Homo sapiens: one gene and its partner. The protein of the gene in region 1 interacts with the protein of each later gene in a biochemical or structural test. Each region holds a gene or a part of one and is shown on either strand. Other genes may lie near its edges.

Evidence for each region.
Region 2: the proteins of PDLIM1 (region 1) and STK35 form a complex in vitro, tested with the Homo sapiens proteins (one study listed by BioGRID).

The regions. Positions count from the first base shown.
Region 1 is NC_000010.11:95,258,324-95,269,854, reverse strand, and holds part of PDLIM1 (PDZ and LIM domain protein 1), read left to right. Parts: intron 1-992; coding exon 993-1,077; intron 1,078-5,791; coding exon 5,792-5,991; intron 5,992-11,531. UniProt on the Homo sapiens protein: Cytoskeletal protein that may act as an adapter that brings other proteins (like kinases) to the cytoskeleton. Involved in assembly, disassembly and directioning of stress fibers in fibroblasts.
Region 2 is NC_000020.11:2,095,490-2,106,851, forward strand, and holds the start of STK35 (serine/threonine-protein kinase 35), read left to right. Parts: upstream 1-6,337; 5' UTR 6,338-6,392; coding exon 6,393-6,686; intron 6,687-7,278; coding exon 7,279-7,876; intron 7,877-11,362.

The DNA of each region.
Region 1 (11,531 bases):
CTGGGCTGGGAGAATCGCTTGAGCCTGGGAAGCGGAGGTTGCAGTGAGCCAAGATCACGCCATTCATTGCACTCCAGCCTGGGCGACAGAGCGAGACTCTGTCTCAAAAAATAAATAAATAAAATAAATAAAGATAAGTATAAATATTTTCTACCTGCAAGAGAGGAAACAACGACACTAATGAAAACTGAGACTAAAGTAAAATCATTGCTCTGTGGTTGGTACAAAGAAAATAGTTTATAAGAGCAAAAGAGGGGCGTTCTTCTCTTTTTTTTTTTTTTTTGGGATGGAGTCTCACTCTGTCACCCAGGCTGAAGTGCAGTGGTGCTATCTCAGCTCACTGCAACCTCTGCCTCCTGGGTTTAAGCAAGTCTCCTGCCTCAGCCTCCCGAGTAGCTGGGATTATAGGCGTATGCCACCACACCCGGCTAATTTTTGTATTTTTAGTGGAGATGGGGTTTCACCATGTTGGCCAGGCTGATGTCAAACTCCAGACCTCAAGTGATTTCCCCACCTCAGCCTCCCAAAGTGCTGGGATTACAGGCGTGAGCCACCACGCCCGGCCAAGAGGCATTATTTTCATTTGGGTCAAACAGGCTTCACAAATAAGTTGGTTATTTGGTCTGGACCAAACACACTGGGTTGAGATAGAGGAGAAGCCCATTCTATCCTGAGCAGAGATAGGGCAGTGTGAGTCATGCTTAGGAACATGGAGGAGACCACACTGCTGGTGTCAGCTACCCAGAGTGTGGTGAGGGAGGATGAAGTGCTTGGGAAGCCCCTTGGGGCTATGCTGGGGAGCCATCAGCCATGGATGTTATCAGATTGGGGTGTTTAAAAGATCAACCTGGTGGCAAATGGAAGGTAGAGCTGATGGGAGGGTGCTAGTTCAGTGCCTAGTCCAGGAAAGAGGGGGCATTTTTCCAGTTTGTCTTTGGTATATATTATTTATTTTACATGAGTGAAACAGCAGCTTTGTTAATCTGTTGCAGATCTGAACATAAAGTCTGGTCTCCTCTGGTGACGGAGGAAGGGAAGCGTCATCCATACAAGATGAATTTAGCCTCTGAACCCCAGGTAAGTTCTTGCTCATCGTTGCCGCTGCTCTCACCACCCAGCACTTTGCCGTTTCTGACACTGCTCAGCACATTCCTGTTTTTCCTGCCCTGGAGGCCTGGGGATAAGACCCTTCACTGTCTCTGCTGGTATCTGGCTCTTGTTCAGTTCTTCCCGTAAGGGAACTGCAGGAGGATAGGGCTGGAAAACCCCAGGGCAGTGACGCTGTGTCCTGGGCTGGAAGCAGGGGGTCGGAAGGCGATAAGGGAAGCCGGTGGAAGCCTTCCTGCGTGGGAAGGGTTGGCAGGATCACAGTGAAGTCAAGGAGCTATTCAGCTCGTTATGGATTTCAGCAACAAATGAATCATGACAGGGATGAAAATAAGTTTAGGTCTGGAGGCCTAGAGCCTAGAAGAAATCGGGGAATATGTAATAGGAAGCCCTGCTTCTCCCCACTGTATGCCCCTGTCTGGTTTCCATGAGCCATGGAGTGGAAATCTCTATTTTTGTTACAGTGAAACTTCTAGTGAGACTTTAAAATTACTAAAATAAAGCAGCAATTAATATAAAAAAAAGCAGTACATAGTGTACAATTTGTCACCCAGATAGAATTTCTCAGGACAGTAGACTGCCCTAAGATCCCATATTTGTGAATAAATCTCTCAGTAGTTGGATTATTGGATTGTAGGTGATTTTATTTCTTTCTGCCTTATGTGCCTCTTCTAAATAATCTACAAGGCATGGGTATTGTTTTTGAAATAAGGGACAAACTTAGAGATGTTTAGAACATCTTTTGTAAAATTCCTCACACCCAACATGCTACTTGTCTCAAAGTATGTGTCTGTTGGATACATTAATGAATTAGTAATGATAAACTAGGTATGTTGATAATGCCTTTTGAAAATTTTACACTGGTTTGTGATGGTTATGCATTTGACCCAAGTTGAAGATTTGAAATTTAACTTATTTTTCTAAATTTGGGATACTATTTAGTTTTTATGGTGAATTAAGATGTAATTAAAATACAATATATAGCTAGCTATCTTTTATACATAAAACAGAAACTTGTATGAAGTTGAACTCACTTGGTATATTAGTGTGTGTTAATTGGGTGGTTGGATATAAGTCATATTTTCTCAAATAGAATCCATTAAAATTTCAAAAACGAAGTCACATAAAATTTTTGCCATTAAGATAGTAAAAATAATTATTAAAAATCCCAAGAGTCATTTTAAGGATCATTTTGCATCATTTCAAAACTGATGTGAACATATTCTTCTATACAACTCCTCTCAGGAAAGTTCGTAAAATGGCACTTGGTCTATACACTGGCAGTTGTGCAAACTAATTTAAAACATGCCACAGTTAGTTTCAGTTTCCTTGGGAGTTCTCAGCTACTTCATTAAATTTACCATAAATGTTAAATTTTAATTGTTAAATTTTAATTTTTACATATTTTATAACACACAAGGAATGATTTCGTTTTAACTTGGTCTATCTGAAATCCTCATTTTCATGTAAATAAGGTAATTATGTAAATTTCAGTTATAGTTTTCATTTGTAGTATATTTGAATTTTCATTTTAAATCTGTAGTTACCTGTATTAATCTTTTGAAGGTAGTTCTCTTCAGATTACAAAAATTCTCAAATACTTTAAACCCTTGTATTTTTCTTGTGATTCTAGTAATGCTTTATTACTGTAAGAAAAACTTCTCACCCATCATTTTTCCAGTCTTTTACTTCCAGCCATTCTAAAGTAGAGGATAAATGAGTAAGAGCAGAGTTCATCTATAATAAAAAGATCTGTTGGTTCATGTAATGCCAACCAACACCCCAGCTTATCTGAGGTCAGCATAGTTACACACCTAGTTTGTACTTCCTCATTATTGAGTTTCCTTGGAGACTGATAAATACAAAGCCCAAACAATTACATCATCCCTTCTAAAAGGCAAGCCCTGAATCTGCCTGCTTTCTGGAAAGACCAGTCAGTATTCAGATGAGGGTAGAGATATTCCTTTTATGTACAAACCAGATGCATTCTTGAAAGATTCTTTAGAAAGTGAAATCATCCGAATTTTCAACCTGAATTTTCCATTGACTTCCATTCTAATTGGAAATGTGTTTCGGTGGAGGGAGAAGGGAACAGACCCTGGTTGAATATGTGCCACGAGCCAGGCACTGTACTTGACACTCTAGTAACTCACACAAATCCTTGTAAAGAAGGCTTTATCTTCTTCATTTTAAAGATGAAAAATGGGCTTAGAGGGGTATTCCTTGCCAAACAGGAAATTGCAGGGAAAAATTGAGCCAAGGCGGAAAAATAAAGACCCTTCCTTGGGGCTCTGCATCCTCTGCTGCTCCTAGGAATTGCCATGGTGATGGAGAGAAGAAGAAAGAATGACCATCCTGGCTGCGGCACATGTAGGCAAGGGTACCAGGCCACCCATCTGTAAATCTCTGTCTTCATGACCATAGCCTTTAATTACTATATATTATTTATTTGGGTAGCTGTGCCATAAAATTTACTTAACTACTCTTTGATAACTGCTGAAGTTTTGTGTTGTTTTTTATTTTTTGTTATTTATTTTTATTTTTTATTTGTGAGATGGAGTCTTGCTCTGTCACCCAGGCTGGAGTGCAATGGTGCAGTCTTGGCTCACTGCAACCTCTGCCTCCTGAGTTCAAGTGATTTTCTTGCCTCAGCCTCTGAGTAGCTGGGATTACAGGCAGGTGCCACCACGCCTAGCTAATTTTTATATTTTAGTAGAAACGAGGTTTCACCATGTTGGCCAGGCTGGTCTTGAATTCCTGAACTCAGGTGATCCTCTTGCGTTGGCTTTCCAAAGTGCTGCGATTACAGGAATGAGCCACCGTGCCTGGCCTGTTTTGTTTTTTTAGGGATGAGAGTCTAGCTCTGTCACCCAGGCTGATGTGCAGTGGCACGATATGGCACACTGCATCCTCCATCTCATGGGCTTACATGATCCTCCTGCCTCAGCCCTCTCAAGTAGCTGGGACTACAGGCTACTTGACTGTCTAACTTTTTTTTACGGATGGGGTCTTACTATGTTGCCCAGGCTGGTTTCGAACTCCTAGGCTCAAGCAATCCTCCTGATTTGGACTCCCAAAGTGTTGGGATTACAGGCGTGAGCCACTGCACCCAGCCAAAAGAGAAATCTTTTTTTTTTTTTTTTTTTTTTTTTTTGACAGAGTTCCACTCTCGTTGCCCAGGCTGGGGTGCAATGGTACAATCTCGGCTCACCGCAACCTCTGCCTCCTGGGTTCAAGAGATTCTCCTGCCTCAGCCTCCCGAGTAGCTGGGATTACAGGCATGCGCCACCATGTCTGGCTAATTTTTGTATTTTTAGTAGAGATGAGGTTTCTCCATGTTGGTCAGGCTGGTCTTGAACTCCGGACCTCAGGTGATCCGCCCGCCTCGGCCTCCCAAAGTGCTGGGATTACAGGCGTGAGCCACCACGCTCGGCCCAAAAGAGAAGTCTTAAACATAAAAATATTTTCAGGTTGTTTTCTTTTATTTTAAATTAGGTACTCAATAAAGCTTTTAGTTTTCATGATTTTTTTTTTTTAAGAAAGCATAAAAGACTTGAATATTTAACAAAAAAGGAGAGAAAAAAGGAAGTGCAACAGATGACAGGAACTCTTTTGGAGGCAGCTGTTCTGGGCCTGGGTGTTTTAAGAAAGAGACTAGAGTTCAGGAAGATTTTTCTGGAAAACACAGACACTAAGACACATTTTGAGTTCAGCTGGCTGCACAGAGCATGCATCACCTAGAAGCCATGGGTTGTCCAGACACCCATATAGAAAGGACCTTGCTGATTGGGCTATCAGAAAAGCTGTGATGCTGGCAGGAGGGAAAGAAAAAGTAGAAAAGCTGTAGTTTTAGAAAACAGGAATGTTAATTTCCAAAGTGGCTTTGCGGGTTTGTAAAGGAGCTCTGAGATGTTGTAGCTGTAGTAATTATTCACCTGACTCTTAACAAGTCTAGGGTGGGGGTGGAGGGAACTTTCTCAAATTACAGAAAGAGGGGAATGAGAACACAAGGAACTCAAAAGTCCTTTTCTGCAGCTCTGCTGGGTACCGCCCCTGTAACAGGTATCCCCGACCTTCTATCTGATTAGCCTTGTCTTTCTCCCAGAAGAAACAATAGATCCTTAATTTCCTTTACCCTTGCTCTGCAGGAGACTGAGACCATCTCTGCCTAGTCAGCAGCTGCTTCCCCTGTGACACCACACCCTCTTACCTTGCTTGTCTAACTTGCTCACTTATGGAGAATTTATCTCCACCTTTTATCATCTCCTGCTTTTGCACTGACCAAAGTGACTGCATATTTCTCTTCACCTAGTGCTTTAATCTCTTTGGTATGTGCCCTGAAAGCGTGTTTTAGCTCTGACTTGAATCTTACAGCCCAAAGCATCAAGGGCTGTCCTGCCCGAGGGTGCCTTAGAGGGCAGGCTTTGCTGGGCCTCAAGGAAGAATCAGAAGGTAGAGATGATTCAGGGGGTGTGAACTCGCACAGGTGCCCATTGTGGGAAACTTCCCCAGTCATTGCCCGTGTGTCTCAGTGGGTGTGTCAGTGTCCCTCAGCTAAAGTTTGGGTTGAACTAGGGCCATCTTAGCAGCTGGAACACCTCTCCCTGGCGCTCAGCCTGCACTGCCCATCAAGGGGTTTGCATTGGATGCCCCCCTTGATTTCTCCTCTGATCCCTGCCTGCAGGAGGTCCTGCACATAGGAAGCGCCCACAACCGAAGTGCCATGCCCTTTACCGCCTCGCCTGCCTCCAGCACTACTGCCAGGGTCATCACAAACCAGTACAACAACCCAGCTGGCCTCTACTCTTCTGAAAATATCTCCAACTTCAACAATGCCCTGGAGTCAAAGACTGCTGCCAGCGGGGTGGAGGCGAACAGCAGACCGTAAGTAGCCCAGGAGTCCTCCTCTGAGCCGCTCCTGGGAGGGGCTTTTCACATCAGGACCAGGGCTGCCCAGGCAGGTGCAAGAGCCACTACTCCAGGGAGAAAAATGACTACATTAGCAGAACACTTCTGTGTTCATTTTCTTCATCTACACAAAGGGGACAATACCTCCTGCTTTATAGGGTGTCTGTAAAAGTAAGAATTAATACGTAAAATGCCCAGCATTGTGTTAAGCACAAACAAATCACTTAATCCTCCAGAACTGTTTTTATTTGTGTTTTGATTTCTGTGGTCATCATCTTCTAATTGAACATAGTCCTTCCTTGACAGGCCTGCTGCTTCCCGAGAAATTCTTCAGTATTATTAGTCGGGGAGTGTTTGAGGGAATCTAGAGTAGCCTGTGCTTATGTCCACCATCTGAACTAAGCAAGGGAGAAATACTTCATGCTGCATAGTTTTGGTGAAGCAGTGTTTGCTTTTTCCCTAGAGTGGACCAGAGGTCATGAAAGAAGAGAGGTCCCTGAGGATATAAATGCTTGTCCTAGGAATAGGTTCTGATCTGGGGACAGAGGCAGGCTTAACTGGGGGAGAGGTAGGGCTGCAGGTGGAAAGGGGAGAGGTGTCTGAGGAAGTGCCTTGCTGGGGACTGAGGAGGCATGTCCTCTTCTGTCACAGATCATCTGGCTGCAGCTGCCTTTGAGTCTTTTTTTTTTTTTTTTGAGACAAGCTTTCGCTCTGTCACCCAGGCTGGAGTACAGTGGTTTGATCACAGCTCACTGCAGCCTCGACCTCCTGGGTTCAAGTGATCCTCCCACCTCAGCCTCCTGAGTAGCTGGTACTACAGGTGTGTGCCACCACACTTGGCTAAGTTTTACTTTTTTTTGTAGAGATTGGGGTCTCACTGTGTTGCCCAGGCTGGTCTCGAACTCCTGGGCCCAAGTGATCCTCCCACCTCAGACTCCCAAATTTCCGGGATTACAGGCATGAGCCACCAAGCCCTTTGAGTCTTTATTGGAGTCTCCTGGATCTTGCCAGCAGAGGGGCCCAGTGTCTGCTCCATCTCAGGCTCTTTGAGGATGAATCCAGAAACACTGGGAATCCCAGCAAAGGAACTGGGTTTGAGGATGGGTTAAAGATGGGGCCAATTCTCTGTAGGTGTAAAGTGGGTGGACTAGGTTAGGAATTGCCCACTCAAATACCCAAAAGTGGCAGGCAGGATGAGGAACTGAGGCAGAGCTCTGAGTAAACAAGGGTGCTGGGTGGGGGTGGGGGTGGCAGCTGGAGCGTGCATTCCTGGTCCGGAGGGGACGCTGCTCCTTGGCTCCAGCCACGTGCCTCATGCAGGTCTCATTTCTGCTAATTATTTCCATTAAAACAGAAGTTGGAAAGCCTCTTTTTTTCGGAAATCTCCTGATTTTTAATTATTGGTGACATTTAAATTTTGTTGGAAAACACTGTGTGGTCCAAACTTGCCTTAGCTCTGAGAACCTTTCTCACTTGGAATCATCAATTTTTGTATTGCCTCTGAAGCCCGCTTTGCCATTCAGTTTCTCCCCAATTCACCTTTAACAAGAACCTGCTCAACTCTTAGGGTAATTAAATTGCAAACCAATGGCTTCAAATGCAGGTTGAGAGAGGTTAAGATACTAGAGGTTCCAAACTACTTAAATGTTTGGAAAGGGCTGTTGTAGCAACACCTCTCAAGGGCTCCTTGGGCATTCCTTGCATATAGTCACCCCTCCCCTCCCCAGAGAGAGACAGATGTCATTGGACACCCATGACATGTGCATCCCTGTTCCCTGTGCCTGACACTGAGAGGACACTAAGATTTCTTTCTTTCTTTTTTTTTTTTTTTGAGACGGAGTTTCACTCTTGTTGCCTAGGCTAGAGTGCAATGGAGTGATCTCTGCTCACCACAACCTCCGCCTCCCGGGTTCAAGCGATTCTTCTGCATCAGCCTCCCGAGTAGCTGGGATTACAGGCATGCGCCACCACGCCCGGATAATTTTGTGTTTTTAGTATAGATGGGGTTTCTCCATGTTGATCAGGCTGGTCTCAAACTCCCGACCTCAGGTGATCTGCCTGCCTCGGCCTCCCAAAGTGCTGGGCTTACAGACGTGAGCCACTGCGCCCAGCTGACACTAAGATTTCTTTTAACATTTCTTTGAGTCTGGTAGGGCAGACTTTTTTCTGTGTGACTTTGGCTTTAGAAGATGTTAAAGGTTACTGGCCATTTATCATAGTAACCAAGGCAGTCTCCACCAATGTTTCTTCTTCCCTCAAATTCTGGTTCTTGCAAGGGCTTACTGGCTTGAGATGATGATTCTCTTCCAGGCGACTGTGGGGACATTTGAGATACCTGAGAAACGGTGTCATACTGGTCCCCCTAGGCTTTCCACAGACACACCCTGAGAGGAAGCTTCCAAGCAGCTCAGGAGTGGTGGAAACACTGGGGGCCTGTGATCCCTGTTTTTAGCTGCTTTGGTGCTGGGGAGGCTGAGAACATGACCCTCTTTTACTGTCCCAGAGTGGAATATTCCATGATCTGGACTTAGTAACCCAGGAAATGACACATCCTTAATTGAAAGAGCTGCTATGCATTGGGAGAAATATGTGCCTGGGAAATATTTTTAGTATGGCCTTGGCTATTTTTCCTTCATTAATGTCTCTCTTCTCTCATGTTCCCTGCCTGCTCCCTCCTCTGAGTCTGAAACTACCAGGTGGCTGTTTAAGCCTTTCCTCTAGCCCCTGGCCCAGACTCTTTGGCTGCAGTAGTTGCCGAGTATCAAAATTTGTCTCTTTGCAGATTTTCTCAGCAGAGAGGGTCCTGTTTCTGTTCCACCCCGCACTCTTTGAGGCTGAACCCAGAAACAGTGGGAAAACCAACAGCCTAAGGCAGAGGAGCTGCCTAACTGGCCATGCTGCTTGTATGGGGGGATCTCAGCTTGCTGGTGTATTTCTAGTGCATTCCCACAAAGAAAGATTCTCCTGTGAGCCCAGCAGTCACCTGGTAACTTTGCTTGCTCAGTCAGCACAAGTCCCAAGTGCTCGCTCCCTCCCACTGTTTAGTCTGTGAAATTCGCTGAAGTTCCAGAATTGGCTCACTACATACTTTGCATCTGAGGTCATCACCCATTCTCTGGGGCTTGCCCTGGATTTCTTTGTCCTATGCACTTGAAAGTATTGTGGTGTGTCTGTTGCTATCTGTCTTGTAGGTCTTTACAGAGCTGTGTCCCAGTCAGATAAGAACAGAGATAGCCTTGCCAACTGGTAAGGCAGGTGAGGGGGTTTCTCTGCTGCCCTTCCTCCCAGTGCACACAGTGGAGGGGGAGGTCCTCAGTGGCCTTTTTCCTCTAGGTCAGTTCAGCATAATCATTTATTGAGTGCCTACTGTGTACCAGGTGGGCGAAGAAAATGTCAGTTCAGCAGAAAGCTAGCACCTTTCCTCTGTTCTCTTTTAATTGAGTTGAGGGGACCCTGGTCAAAATCAGAAAATTCAGAGCCCAGATTTCATTGTTTATATGATACTGCCTGATACTTCCTAAAGGCTTGGTAGATAGAGGGGCCTGAGCCTTGAATTCCAGCTCTGCCTCTTACTAGCTGTGTGACCTTGGGAAAACCATGTAACATCTCTGAAACTCAGTCTCCTGAGATCTAAGGTGGAAATAATACTAACTTCTTTACCACCAGGTTGTTGAGACAATGCAATGGGATGTGCACAGAGCACTCAGCACAGTGCCTGGCCCCTGGTAGGTGCTCACTAAATGCTAATTATTGCTAACTTTAGTTTCCATGAGGAACTCCATCCCCATCACTTCTGAGAACTGGGGGCTACAGAAGTGTGGAAGCACATAGACAAATGTAATGGAGAAGACTTTGCTGTGGCTTATGGTACACTTCTTTCTTGCCCATTAAATTCAGCCAGCCCACACAGCTAATCAGCTTACTGATGGGGTGGTGGTGTTCTCTTCAAGGAATGATTGGAGAGCTCCTGTAACCAACATACTAGGCCCTAGATAATAGCTCTTCCAAATTGTGTTGTAAGGTGTTGCCCCCAAACATTCATGAGGGAGATTTCTAAGCAGCTGCCCTGGAAATAAAGGGATGCATCATTTTCTATTCAAATATTATCACAAGGATGATGTTAACCCTGGCTTCTTCAGAGCTGAATCAGAAGTACACCTCTATCATGAAGGCTGCTTGCCCCTCTAGCTAAACCTGCCTGCCACCCACAGAAAACTGGCTCTGCTGTGCGGGCATTCCTCTCTCTTCTCCTGGTGCCCACAATTACCCCTCTGGTTTCTTATTGCAGGACCAATATGTGTGCCTTTGAAGACCAAAACTTAGGAAGCACACAGGCCAGGCTTCCCTTCTGAAAATGATTACATAGGGTTTCCCAGAATGGCGTTTTTGGGTGAACATTGGGGTAATCAGGCTGGGACATCTCATTTCTTGGGATATGAGATAGGAAAGATTTTTCTGGGTCCGCCTACCTCCTTTCCCCCACCTACATAAAAAACAAGTATTCCTCTACATTATTTCCAGCTAGCACTTAACTTCCACCATTTGGGGAAAATATTTCTTAAAATTAATTAAAATTTTTATTTTGAGATAATTGTAGATTCACTTGCAGTTATAGGAAATAATACAGAGATCCCCTATACCCTTTACCAATTTCCCTCAATGGTAACATCTTGAAAACACAATAGTAACAAAATTAGGATATTGACATCAATACACTCAAGATACTGAACATTTCCATCTCTGCAAGGGTTTCTCATGTCGCTCTTTTATAGCCACACTCGCTTCCCTCCTTTTCCCTCATCCTCCTTAACCCCTGGCAACTTACTTATCTACTCTTTATATTTTTATTATTTCAAAAATGTTATATTAATGGAATCATACAGTATGTAACCTGGGATTAGCTTTTCTACTCAGTATATTGTCTGGAGATTTATTTAGGTTTTTGTATCGATAGGTTTATGTATCAATAGTTTGTTCCTTTTTTTTCTGTTTTATGGGTTTGTCTTTTTTTATTGTGTTAAAAAACATGAAATTTATGATCTTAAACGTTTTTAAGTGTATTGTAATGTTTACTATGTGTACATTGTTGTGCAACACATCTCTAGAACTTTTTTATCCTGAAAAACTGAAATTCTGTACCCATTGAAAAACAACCTCACCTTAAAGTCCCCATCTCTCAAGCCCCTAGCAACCACTATAATACTTTCTAAGTTTGATTACTTTAGATATCTCATATAATTGGAGTCATGCATTTGTCTTTTTTCAATTACCATAATGTCCTCAAGGTTTTCCCATGTTGTAATATATGACAGAATTTCCTTCTTCTTTTCTTTTTTTTGAGACAGAGTCTCGCTCTGTCCCCCAGGCTGGAGTGCAGTGGCGCGATCTTGGCTTACTACAAACTCTGCCCCTCCAGGTTTAAGCAATTCTCTGCCTCAGCCTCCCGAGTAGCTGGGATTACAGGCGTGTGCCACCATGCCCGGCTAATTTTTTTGGTATTTTTTTAGTAGAGATGG
Region 2 (11,362 bases), on another chromosome or scaffold:
CTGGCCTCCTTGCCTGCTCCCTCCCACCTAGGGCCTTTGCTCTTCCCTCTGATCTGAAATGCTCTTCCAGTAGAGATGCAATTGACCTATTCTTTAACTTAAATCAGGTCCCTGCTCAATGGTCACCTCCTTAGAAAGCTTTCCCCAAACCACCCATTCTAGAATACCATCGACCCCATCCCTTGCTATCTTTTTTTTTTTTTTTTTTTTTTGAGACGGAGTTTCGCTCTTGCTGCCCAGGCTGTAGTGCAATGGTGCAATCTCAGCTTACTGCCACCTCTGCTTTCTGGGTTCAAGTGATTCCTGTGCCTCAGCCTCCTGAGTAGCTGAGATTACAGGTGTGTGCCACCATGCCCGGCTAATTTTGTATTTTTAGTAGAGACGGGGTTTCTCCATGTTGGTCAGGCTGGTCTCGAACTCCTGACCTCAGGTGATCCGCCTGCCTCGGCCTCCCAAAGTGCTGGGATTACAGGCATGAGTCACCATGCCCAGCCTCCATCCCTTGCTATCTTTTGTTTACTTTCTGGTCCCTAATGGGTCTACTGTGATGTGGGACTGCATAACTGCACTGTCATATTGTCTGTGTCAGCCCCTCAAGGCAGACACTGAGTTTTCTCCTGCTCATCCCCATACATCAGCTCCCAAACTGCCTTGCACATAGAGGAGTAAGGGTTCAAAAAATGTTAAATGAATGACTTTTCTTACAGTAAAAGTGTAGCCATTGCTTTATTCAGCCAGTGTCAGCGACTCCTTGAGTGTAGAGAGCACAACCAATGATGTGACATTCCATGCAGCTCTCTGTGCTCAGCAGAGAAAGGACTTCCTTCCGCATCCCTGGCCTGCTAAAAGGGCTGAAAACCTCACTGCTTGGTCGGTTACGGTGGCTCACGCCTGAAATCTCAGCACTTTGGGAGGTCAAGGTGGATGGATCACTTGAGGTCAGGAGTTCGAGGCCAGCCTGGCCAATATGATGAAACCCCATCTCTACTAAAACACACACACACACACAAAATTAGCCAGGTGTGGTGGCAGGTGTCAGTAATCCCAGCTACTCGGGAGGCTGAGGAGGAGAATCATTTGAATCCAGGAGGTAGAGGTTGCAGGGAGCCGAGATCATGCCACTGCACCCCAGCCTGGACAACAGAGTGAGACTCCATTTAAAAAAACAAACAAAAAACCTCACTGCTGCTCTTCTCTTCTACATTTCTTCTATCACTAAATATTGAGCTCAGTCAGATGTTTGGTACTGTCTGAGGTTCCAGGGATACTGAGGCAGGCATGTTTGTCAACAAGAAAGATGTAGAAGAGGGCTCGCTGTAACGTTTACACTGCTTAGCCTGGGGAGGGGCTGAGTGCGATCAAGAGATGTGGAGTGTCTGGGGCCTCAGTTTGAAACCCAGCTGTGCCAGCTTCACATTCGGTTTCTTCATCTGTAAAATGGGGCTAATGAAAGTCACTACCTCATGGAATTGTCGTAATTCTTTGTTAATCCCTGTGCCTGGCAGACAGAAAACTTTAGTAAATGTTGGCTATTAGTCCTAACAGTAAAGTATAGGTTACTTCCATAAGTTAAGCAAGACAAAAACAAAAACTAAAAATTTGGTCAAGGCATCAAATGATTTATCAAGCAGTCCAGCCCTCTTAACAGCATATAAAAGGATTCACACTCCTTGTGGTCCTCCCAGAACTTCATATTCAATCTCTCTCAAAATTCAGGTGGGGGATACAGCTGGAGGCCATTATCCTAAGCAAATTAACTCAGGAACAGAAAACCAAAAACCAAATACCGCATGTTCTCACTTATATGTGGGAGTAAACAATGGGTGCTCATGGACATAAAGACAGGAGTAGACACTGTGTATTACTAGGGTGGGGAGGGAAGGGCAAGGGTGGAAAAGCTACTGGTTACTATGCTCATTACCTGGACGATGGGCTCAACTGTATCCCAAACCTTAGCATCACACAATATATGCATGTAACAAACCTGCACAGGTACCCCAAAATCTAAAAAAACAAGCTGGAATTATAAAAAGTAAATAGGCCGGGTGCAGTGGCTCATGCCTGTAATCCCAGCACTCTGGGAGGCCAAGGTGGGAGGATGGCTGAGCCAGGAGTTCGAGACCAGCCTGGGCAACATGGTAAAATCCTAGTGGCATGTGCCCACAGTCCCGGCTACTCAGGAGGCTGAGGTGGGAGGATCACTTGAGCCCAGGAGGTCAAGGCTGCAGTGTGCCATGATCATGCCACTGCACTCCAAGCTTGGGCAACAGAGCAAGACCCTCTCTCAAATAGATGGATAAATAGGTAAGATGCCTAAAAACAAAATAAAAACATGTATATGTGTATTAGAAAACAAAACAAAACAAAATCAGATAGGAAAACTAGCCAGGAGGAAAGACACTGCTGGCTGTGCTAAACCTACGAAGCCAGTGATACAGGAATGGGGCCAGGGCCACACAATGCAGCCTTCTGTCCTTAGAAACTTCTAAGTAAAGACACAAGTGTTCGCAGCTACAGGGTTTTGGCTTTTTTTTTTTTTTTTTTATGTTTTAATTCAACTTTGTCGTGGTACAATTTACACACAATAAAATTCCATCACCCAGAAAATTCCCCTGTGGCCCTCAGCAATCAATTCCCACCTGAAAAACAACCACTGATACGATTTCTGCCACTCTAGACTATTGTTGGTTGACTTTATATTAATGGAATTATAGTATGTGTTCTTTTCCAATTTTTTTATAGCTTTATTAAGTTGTAAAACTGATTTACATAAATACACCTAATATAAAGGGTACAATTTGAAGTGTTTTAATATATTCCTATCTTGAAACTATTACTACAGTCTAGATAACCCATCACCCCAAAAAGTTTTATGTCCTTTTGTTTTCTATCCACCCTTCCTACCCCAACTACTGATCTGCTTTCTGTCACTACAAATTAGTTTGTATTGTTAAGAATTGTATATAGAATCATCTAGCAGGTACTCTCTTGTGCCTGGCCTCTTTCACTCAGCATAATTATTTTGATTCATACATGCTGTTGTATCAATACTTTATTCCTCCCCCCATCAACACACCCTCAGCAACATTTCATTGTATGGGAATACCACAATTTGTTTATCCATTCATTTATTGCTGAACACTGCAGCATTTTCCAGTTTGGAATTCTTATGGGAAAAGCCACTGTGAATTCCTATACAAGTTGCTTTATTAACAGAAGTTTTCATTTACCTGAGACCCATGGAATTGCTGGGCCACAGGGTAGACATATATTTAACTTTATAAGAAACTGCCAAACTGGTTTTTTTTTTTTTTCCCAAAGTGGTTGTACCATTTTAAAATCTTACCACATGGCTGGTTTCACAAGCTTGTATCCATCTCATGGCTTTTGTACTTGTTCTTCTTTCTTCTTGGAATGACTTCCCATTCGGTTTCAGAGCTGGGTTCTTGACATTCAGGTTTCAATTCAAATGTCAAATGCCAAAGAGGCTATTATGGACTGAATTGTGTCCCTCCTCACTCCAAATTCATGTTGAAGTTATAATTCCCAGTACCTTAGAATGTGCCTATATTTGAAGATAAGGTCTTTAAAGAGGTAATTAAGATAAAATAAGGCTGTCGGAATGAAGGACAAAAACCATACTATCATTTCAATTGATGCTGAAAAAGCATTTGATAAAATTCAACATGGTTTCATGATAAAAACCCTAAAAAAAACTGGGAATAGAAGGAAAATACCCCCACATAATAAAAGCCATATATGACAAACCCACAGCTAGTACCATACTGAATGGGGAAAAACTGAAAGCCTTTAAGATCTGGAATACAACAAGGATGCCCACTTTCACCACTGTTATTCAACACAGTACTAGAAGTACTAGAAGTACTAGCTAGAGCAATCAGGCAAGAGAAAGAAATAAAGGGCATCCAAATAGGAAAGGAAAAAGTTAAATTATCCTTGTTTGCATATTATATCTTATATTTGGAAAAACCTAAAGACTCCACCAAAAAACTGTTAGAACTGATAAACAAATTCCGTACAGTTGCAGGATACAAAATCAACATACAAAAATCAGTAGCATTTCTATATGTTAACAGTGAACAATCTGAAAAAGAAATTTAAAAAGTAATCCCATTTACAATAGCCATAAATAAAAATACCTAGGAATTAATTTAAAGAAATGAAAGATCTCTATAATGAAAACTATAAAACACTGATTAAAGAAATTGAAGAGGACACACAAAAAATGGAAAGATATTTCATGTTCATGGATAGGAAGAATCAACATTGGTTAAAATGTCCATACTACCCAAAGCAATCTAAAGAGTCAATGCAATCCCTATCAAAATACCAATGACATTCTTCACAGAAATAGAAAAAAGGTTATGGTTAAAAAGACCTTCTGATCACCATTTTGCAACTGTAATAATTGTTTCAAGCAAGAATCACCATGAATTCTGAAACCAGTGGGTAAGAGTCTAAAGAAGAGGATATTTAAATAGTCTCAAAATATCTTCCCACAGAATACTTAATAGTTACAGAAGGAAAAATCGTAACTTTATGGTAGAGTGTAACTACTCCTACACCACCTCAACCAAATGATGGAAGTTAACACCACGAATACTGGGACAAACACAATGCCATGTGCCTCCTGATGAAAGGCCCTGAGGAGGCAACTTTTTTCAGCAGTAGTCCTGCCAAAAAATGCATACCCTCTCAGAATAGCAAGGGATGGGTTGGTGGGGGGTGGGGGAGGAGAGAAAAATGGATACTCTGAAACTAATAAGAAAACACAGATGAATAAAAATTTAGGGACATTCTACAATATAACTCGCCAGTATTCTTCAAAAATGTCAAGGTCATGAAAGACAAAGAAAGGCTGGATAACTAACTGCCCTTCCAGATTAAAAGAAACTAAAGAGGCATGACAACTCAGTGCAACGTCTGATCCTGAATTGGATCCTGGGGAATAGCTATAAAGGACATTATTGGGACCATTAGCAAAATTTAAATATGGATGGAGTGTATTAAATAAAACAATTGTATCATTGTTAAAATTCCTGATTTTTGACCACTGTACTGAGATTATGCCAGATAATGTCTTTTTTTTAAGGAAACACACACATATATTTAGGATAAAGGAGTTTGATGTTGGAAACTCTAAAATGATGTAGTAAAAAAGAATATATACATTATATATGTGTGTGTGTGAATATCTATATACCGTATACTGATTTCCTTTCTTTTGGGGTATATACCATATAGATATCCACACACAATATGTATTTGTGTGTATATATACACATACACGAGAGGATATGGATATGCAGCAAAATATAACAATTTGTTATTCTAGTGGAAAAGTATATGATCTTTACGATTCTTGAAATTTATGTGTAAATTTGAAATTTAATCACAAAAAAGTTAAGAGGTTTTCAGCGACCAAATACATTATAAGAAATGGCCTGTATCCAGTGAGCACTCTTTAGCTCATTCTTTTTCTCCATCACACTTACCACTGGCAAAAATTATCCTGTGCATTTATTTAATAATACTTAACATTGTGTGCAAGGCTGTCCTAAGTGCTTTACCTGTATAACCTCTGTGGATCTTCTTACAGGTAAGGAACAAATACACAAGAAGGTTGACTAACTTGCCCAAGGCCACCCATGTGGTTTGTCTCCTGCAGTGGCACAGAACCTCAACCAAGGCAGAAACTGCCTTGTCTATTGCTCTTTCCCCAGCGACTTGGAATGGTGCCTAGCACATTACGGGTGTTCAATAAACATCTGTAGATTCAGTTAACAAACACTGGGCACCCACTAGGCCTACACTGGAATACAAAATACAGAACAAAATATTCAAAAATCTGTGCCTAAATGGGAGCTTTGGGTACTAACAGCCCCACACCCAATTAGCCTCCATCTAGGTATTTCATTTGGGTCTATCATTCCTGGGAATTAAAGCCCATTCTATCCATTTTGCAGAGGATCATTAGATAAACGGATGCTCAGGGTGGGTCAATGATTTGCACAAGATCACTGGGCTGGTAGAAGGGAAGGTCGGGATTCCAACCCAGTCCCTGAGGTTCCCAGGACAGAGCTATGAATCAAACGACCAAGACAATCACCCAGTCAGTATTTATTAGGCGCCTACTGCGGACGGTTGGTCTTCACGCAGATCAGGCGAGAAGGGATAGTGATGCGCGGGCCGCTGCGGAGACCCGGAGCCCGCCGCGGATCACGGGAATTTCGCGCCTATTTTTTGTTGGCTGGGTGTTCTCGCCAGTGATTGGGTCCCGGCAAGGCGTGCCGGTGCGCTCGGCTGCGGCTGCTCCGTCGACCTTTGCAGGACCGGGCGGTGCAGGGCTCACTCGGCTGGCGTCCCGGGGGATGGGCCACCAGGAGTCTCCGCTGGCCCGGGCGCCGGCGGGAGGTGCAGCTTATGTAAAGAGGTTATGTAAAGGGCTCAGCTGGCGCGAACACGTGGAAAGCCACGGGAGCCTAGGAGCCCAGGCTTCCCCAGCGAGCGCCGCGGCAGCAGAAGGATCCGCTACACGCCGGGCTCGGGCCGCCACCTCCCGCGCTGCTCGGTCCCGGAGGCAGCCCGGGCCCGGAGCGGACCATCCCCAGGCAGGGGCTCCAGGGGGGAAACGGGCCGCCCGGAAGTGGAGGTGCGCGGGCCAGGTAAGGGCGCCGTTGGAGGACTGAAGGCCAGCGCCGAGGCTGGAGTTACTGCCACTGCCTCCGCGCTTGGGAAGGGAAATCGGGTCCTCGGCCAGTCGCACTCCGAGAAGCCGAACTTTTCAGCCAATCCCTTCTACCCGTCGCCCTCGGGGACTTGGGTCGGTCCGCTGGGCTCCGCTAGGGCTTAATTCAATGGACTGTTTACACCCGGGCGAACACAAGGCGGGGCGCGGGGAGGAGCGTCACAGAGGGGGCCAAGCAAAGAAAAATATTTCCGCCGGCCAAATCGCGTCTCTAAGCGGTTTTCAGAAGGCGTGAAGCTTGCTGGCTCTTCTTTTTCCTATCGCTACATGACAAGCTAACAGAGAGAGCGGAGAGTTTGTGCTTTTCTTTCCGGTTCCCCCTCTGAGCTGCTGCCCAGTGGTTCGGTCTTTCCCGCTTTCCCCTCCCCTCCCCCGTTCAATCAGCGGCGGTGGCTTCCGTCTTAAAGGGGCCGCGGCGGCCGGGGGAGGAGGAGGTGGGACGCCCCGCGGCCTACGCTCCTGGCCTCCCCGCCTTGGCCTGGCCGTTTAACCGATTCTTTCGCCCGCAGGTCACAATCCAAGGTCCGGCTCCTCCGCGTCCCAGGGCCGGACGGAGGGATGAGGCAGGGGGGGCCCGGGCAGCGCCGTTGCTGCTCCCCCCGCCGCCCGCAGCCATGGAAACGGGGAAGGACGGCGCCCGCAGAGGTACACAAAGCCCGGAGCGGAAAAGGCGAAGCCCAGTGCCGCGGGCGCCCAGCACGAAGCTGAGGCCGGCGGCGGCGGCCCGGGCCATGGATCCGGTGGCGGCCGAGGCCCCGGGCGAGGCCTTCCTGGCGCGGCGACGGCCTGAGGGCGGTGGCGGGTCCGCGCGGCCGCGTTACAGCCTGTTGGCGGAGATCGGGCGCGGCAGCTACGGCGTGGTTTATGAGGCAGTGGCCGGGCGCAGCGGGGCCCGGGTGGCGGTCAAGAAGATCCGCTGCGACGCCCCCGAGAACGTGGAGCTGGCGCTGGCTGAATTCTGGGCCCTCACCAGCCTCAAGCGGCGCCACCAGAACGTCGTGCAGTTTGAGGAGTGCGTCCTGCAGCGCAATGGGTTAGCCCAGCGCATGAGTCACGGCAACAAGAGCTCGCAGCTTTACCTGCGCCTGGTGGAGACCTCGCTGAAAGGTAGGAGCACCGCGGGCCTTTCCACCCACGCAGGGCCTGGACCCCCTGCTCTCCGGACGGCTTGGCCCACACTGTTCCTGGCCTTCCTAGGCCTCAGACCTGGTCCCTGTCACCCTGTGCCCTGACACACCCTCCTTTCCTGGGCCCAGGCATTCGGCCCTCTCTTCTCAGGTCCTAAGATCAGTCCCTGGGCCTAAAGTTGGCTGGTGTTTCCATAACAAGAGCTCGTTTAAGTGCTAACCATTAACTTAATAAGTGCTCAAGAATTGCGAGCTATGGTTATTAAACGTCTTCTATTTTTAAGATCGGTTGGGGGAGTGGAGGAGGGGTCGGGTTCAGTTAGTAGCAGAACTGCGGAGCCTCCTCACCCCCGAGGGCCTCTCTCTTTCCCTCCCAAAACAAACAAAAAGAAAAAACTTGACTGGACCCACCCACACCCTCTCCCTGTCTGGTTCCAAGTTTCCTGACACCCTCCAGCTCCAACCCCCAAACTCCTGTGGCTTCCTCGTCTGCCTTTTCCTCTGAGGCCCCCGGCCCTTCATCCCAGGCAGCCGAGCAAACTGACTGTCTTCTGGCTTGGTCCTCTGAGGGGTGCAGGCTGACAACCCTCACAGGTGGCCTGAGAGCTGTCACATAACAAAGCATCCGGCATCTTTTCCCTCCGTTTTACATTCTTAATCTTTTTCTTAACCTCAGAGGCTGGCTGGGAAGTGGTTTTACTTAAAAGGAAAATGGGGTACATTGAGGCAAGAGGTCTTGCAGTCCTGGAGGAACTAATTATCTTAGTTTCCGGGTTTTAACTGCAGTTAGGGAATGTATTCATCCTAACTACTCAGTACTCACAAGCCTTTTTCATACTACCAGTAGCTAAGTGTCTGCTTGGAGAGGAGAGAGGCGGTAGAAAGTTTGAGGAGACTTTCCGAGGCAGGAGGATCCAGGGGAAGAAAGTTTACTAATCCGAGTCCCAGCTGTGGTCTCAGTGCTGAAGTAATTTTTAGGTAATAACTTCAAAAGTAAATTCTATCCTTTTTCTATAAATAAACTAAGGCTTAGAAGTGAACAAATAACTTGATCAGGGTTAATCCGCTTGAAAGGGAAGTTAGACTGTACTCCTGGTTTCCTTACATTTCTCAGAGCTTAAGTGACGGGGATCCCAGATCTGTCTTGATTCGAGGCCTGGATCCTTTCGAAGGCGTAATGCTGTTCTCTGCACCCTGAGGATGAACTTTTTTAAGAGTGGGTAGGATTTGGGGTGAGTTTGGAGGGGGTGGTTTCCCAAAATCTTGTTACTTTTGCACAACTTAAAGATCCCCCAAGTCTTTCCCAAGAGAACGCTTTGTCCCATTGCAAGTCAGTTGTTTGACAGTGGAGTTGGAAACATGAATCAGTATCACCTAGAGTCCTTTAATTAGATGTCTAACTTTATAAAGTCCATCCGTGCCCCATCCATTCTGAGAAGCCTACCCTCTCCCCAGGGTGAGTGTTTTTGTTTTGAAAAGACTTCCAGCAGGGCACAATGGCTCACGACTGTAATCCCAGCACTTTGGGAGGCTGAGGTGGGAGGATGGCTTGAGCCCAGGAGTTTGGGAACAGCCTGGGCAACAAAGTGAGACCCTGGTCTCCACAAAAAATAGAAAAAAAAATAGCCGGACCTGATGGCACAGGCTTATAGTCCCAGCTACTTGAGAGGCAGAGGCAGGAGGATCAGTTGAGCCTGGGAGGTTGAGGCTACAGTGAGCCATTATCATGCAATGGCACTATAACCTGGGCGACTGAGCAAGACCCTGTCTCAAAAAAAAAAAAAAAAGACTCCCTAGGGGATTCGTTTATCTTACCTATATTCTAGGAGCGCATCACTTACTTTGAAGTCTTTCTATTCTCAGACTTCTCTTAGTCTTCTCCTTTACTGCCAATGAATGGTCTGGACTTCCTACTACAGGATTGCCTTGGGATGTAGGAATTTGCCTTGCCGAATGTTTATTCCTTGTGTCCTCAGTTCATTGACGCCAGTCTCGAACCTTCAACCTCAGCTTGAAGCTCTTGCTTACTCTCTCAACATATAAATACTATGTGGACTTTCCTCACCTGAAGAATTTGTCAAAATTCCAAAGTGACCCCATGGCAGCATAGCATAGTGGTTAGTACCATGGACTTTGGGGTTAGACCCTCTGGCTCATCCCAGGACTGACTGCACAAAACATGGAGCAAATTGTTTGAACCCTGTGAGGAGCATTCCTTTATTGTAAGATAGTGGGTATGTACCTATGACATTAGGTACATAGGGTCACTGTGCAAACTGTTAATGTCAGCAAGTGCTCCACATAGGGAGGAATTCACTGCCTTATATAAGTTCACACCATGTTCTGTACTCTTCTACCCTCACCCCCTTCAAGATTCACATTGTTCTTGCTCAAGTTTCCCAAACTTGTTTCATCATAGAACACACCTTGTTTTCTGTGTTGTCAGGCACACCAAGTTGACAGAAACACTGGTGTTTTCATCCTCCCTTTGTGAACTAAAACTGGGACCTAGAAAAATGAAATCTTTTGCTTTAGGCCGTACACTGGATTGGATTGGTCCCTTTCAGTTGTTTGGAGTCTTTAAAATATTTGAACCTCTACGGTGTTCAGGGCTCAGAGACAGAGCAGTGAAGAAAATATGTGTTGTTTCTGCTTATGAAAATGACATTCAAGCTGACTTGCAATGTGTGGATTTTTCAAGTAGTAAATAGGTAATCATTTTTGCTTCTTAAAATAGAGAACAGATACCAAAATTACTCCAGGTTAAACTTTGCTTATTCTGGATTCCAAAATTTAGGGGTCTTGATCTGTCCTGGGGCCTTGGGTTTACAGCATGCAAATACCACCCAGTAATGTTAAAGCTGGAAGGAATCGTAGAGATAACCTGGTTCAGCTCTCTCATTAAATAGAAAAGTCCTTTACAGTCACCCTTGGCCCTGCCTCCTAAAACTCAGAATGATTTTGAACAGGCCAAAAAGTGTGAATCTGCCTTGAAGTCTCAACTAAACCTAATGCTGAGTCCCTACTGTGGTATTTGAAGGGAAAGAAAAAAAGCAAAGCAAAACACACCACCCCTTGCCCCAATGGAACTTACATTTGAAAAGTTTGAGAACTGGAAGAAGATTTAAATGCTATTCAAGATCACTGGAGGAAATGACCAGTCAACTCATAAGCAAGGGCTTTGCACAAGAATTAAGAGGAAAGAGAATCAGGAGTTAGGGAGAAGGTGGGCTTGAAAGTAGGGTGCCTAGGACTGTGGATAGGCGAAGAGACAAAGGGAGTCCGTTTCACTATTTGGCCAGTAAAATAATCCAGTATCGAAAAGAGAAATGTCTTGAAATGCTGTTCTTGGTCTTACCCCATTTTGTTTGATAGCCTTAAATGCATTGTCTCCTTCCATTCTGTGCACAGACCAAACACGTCCTACCCAGAGGCATTAAGACAGCAGAAGCTTCGGAGGAATAGA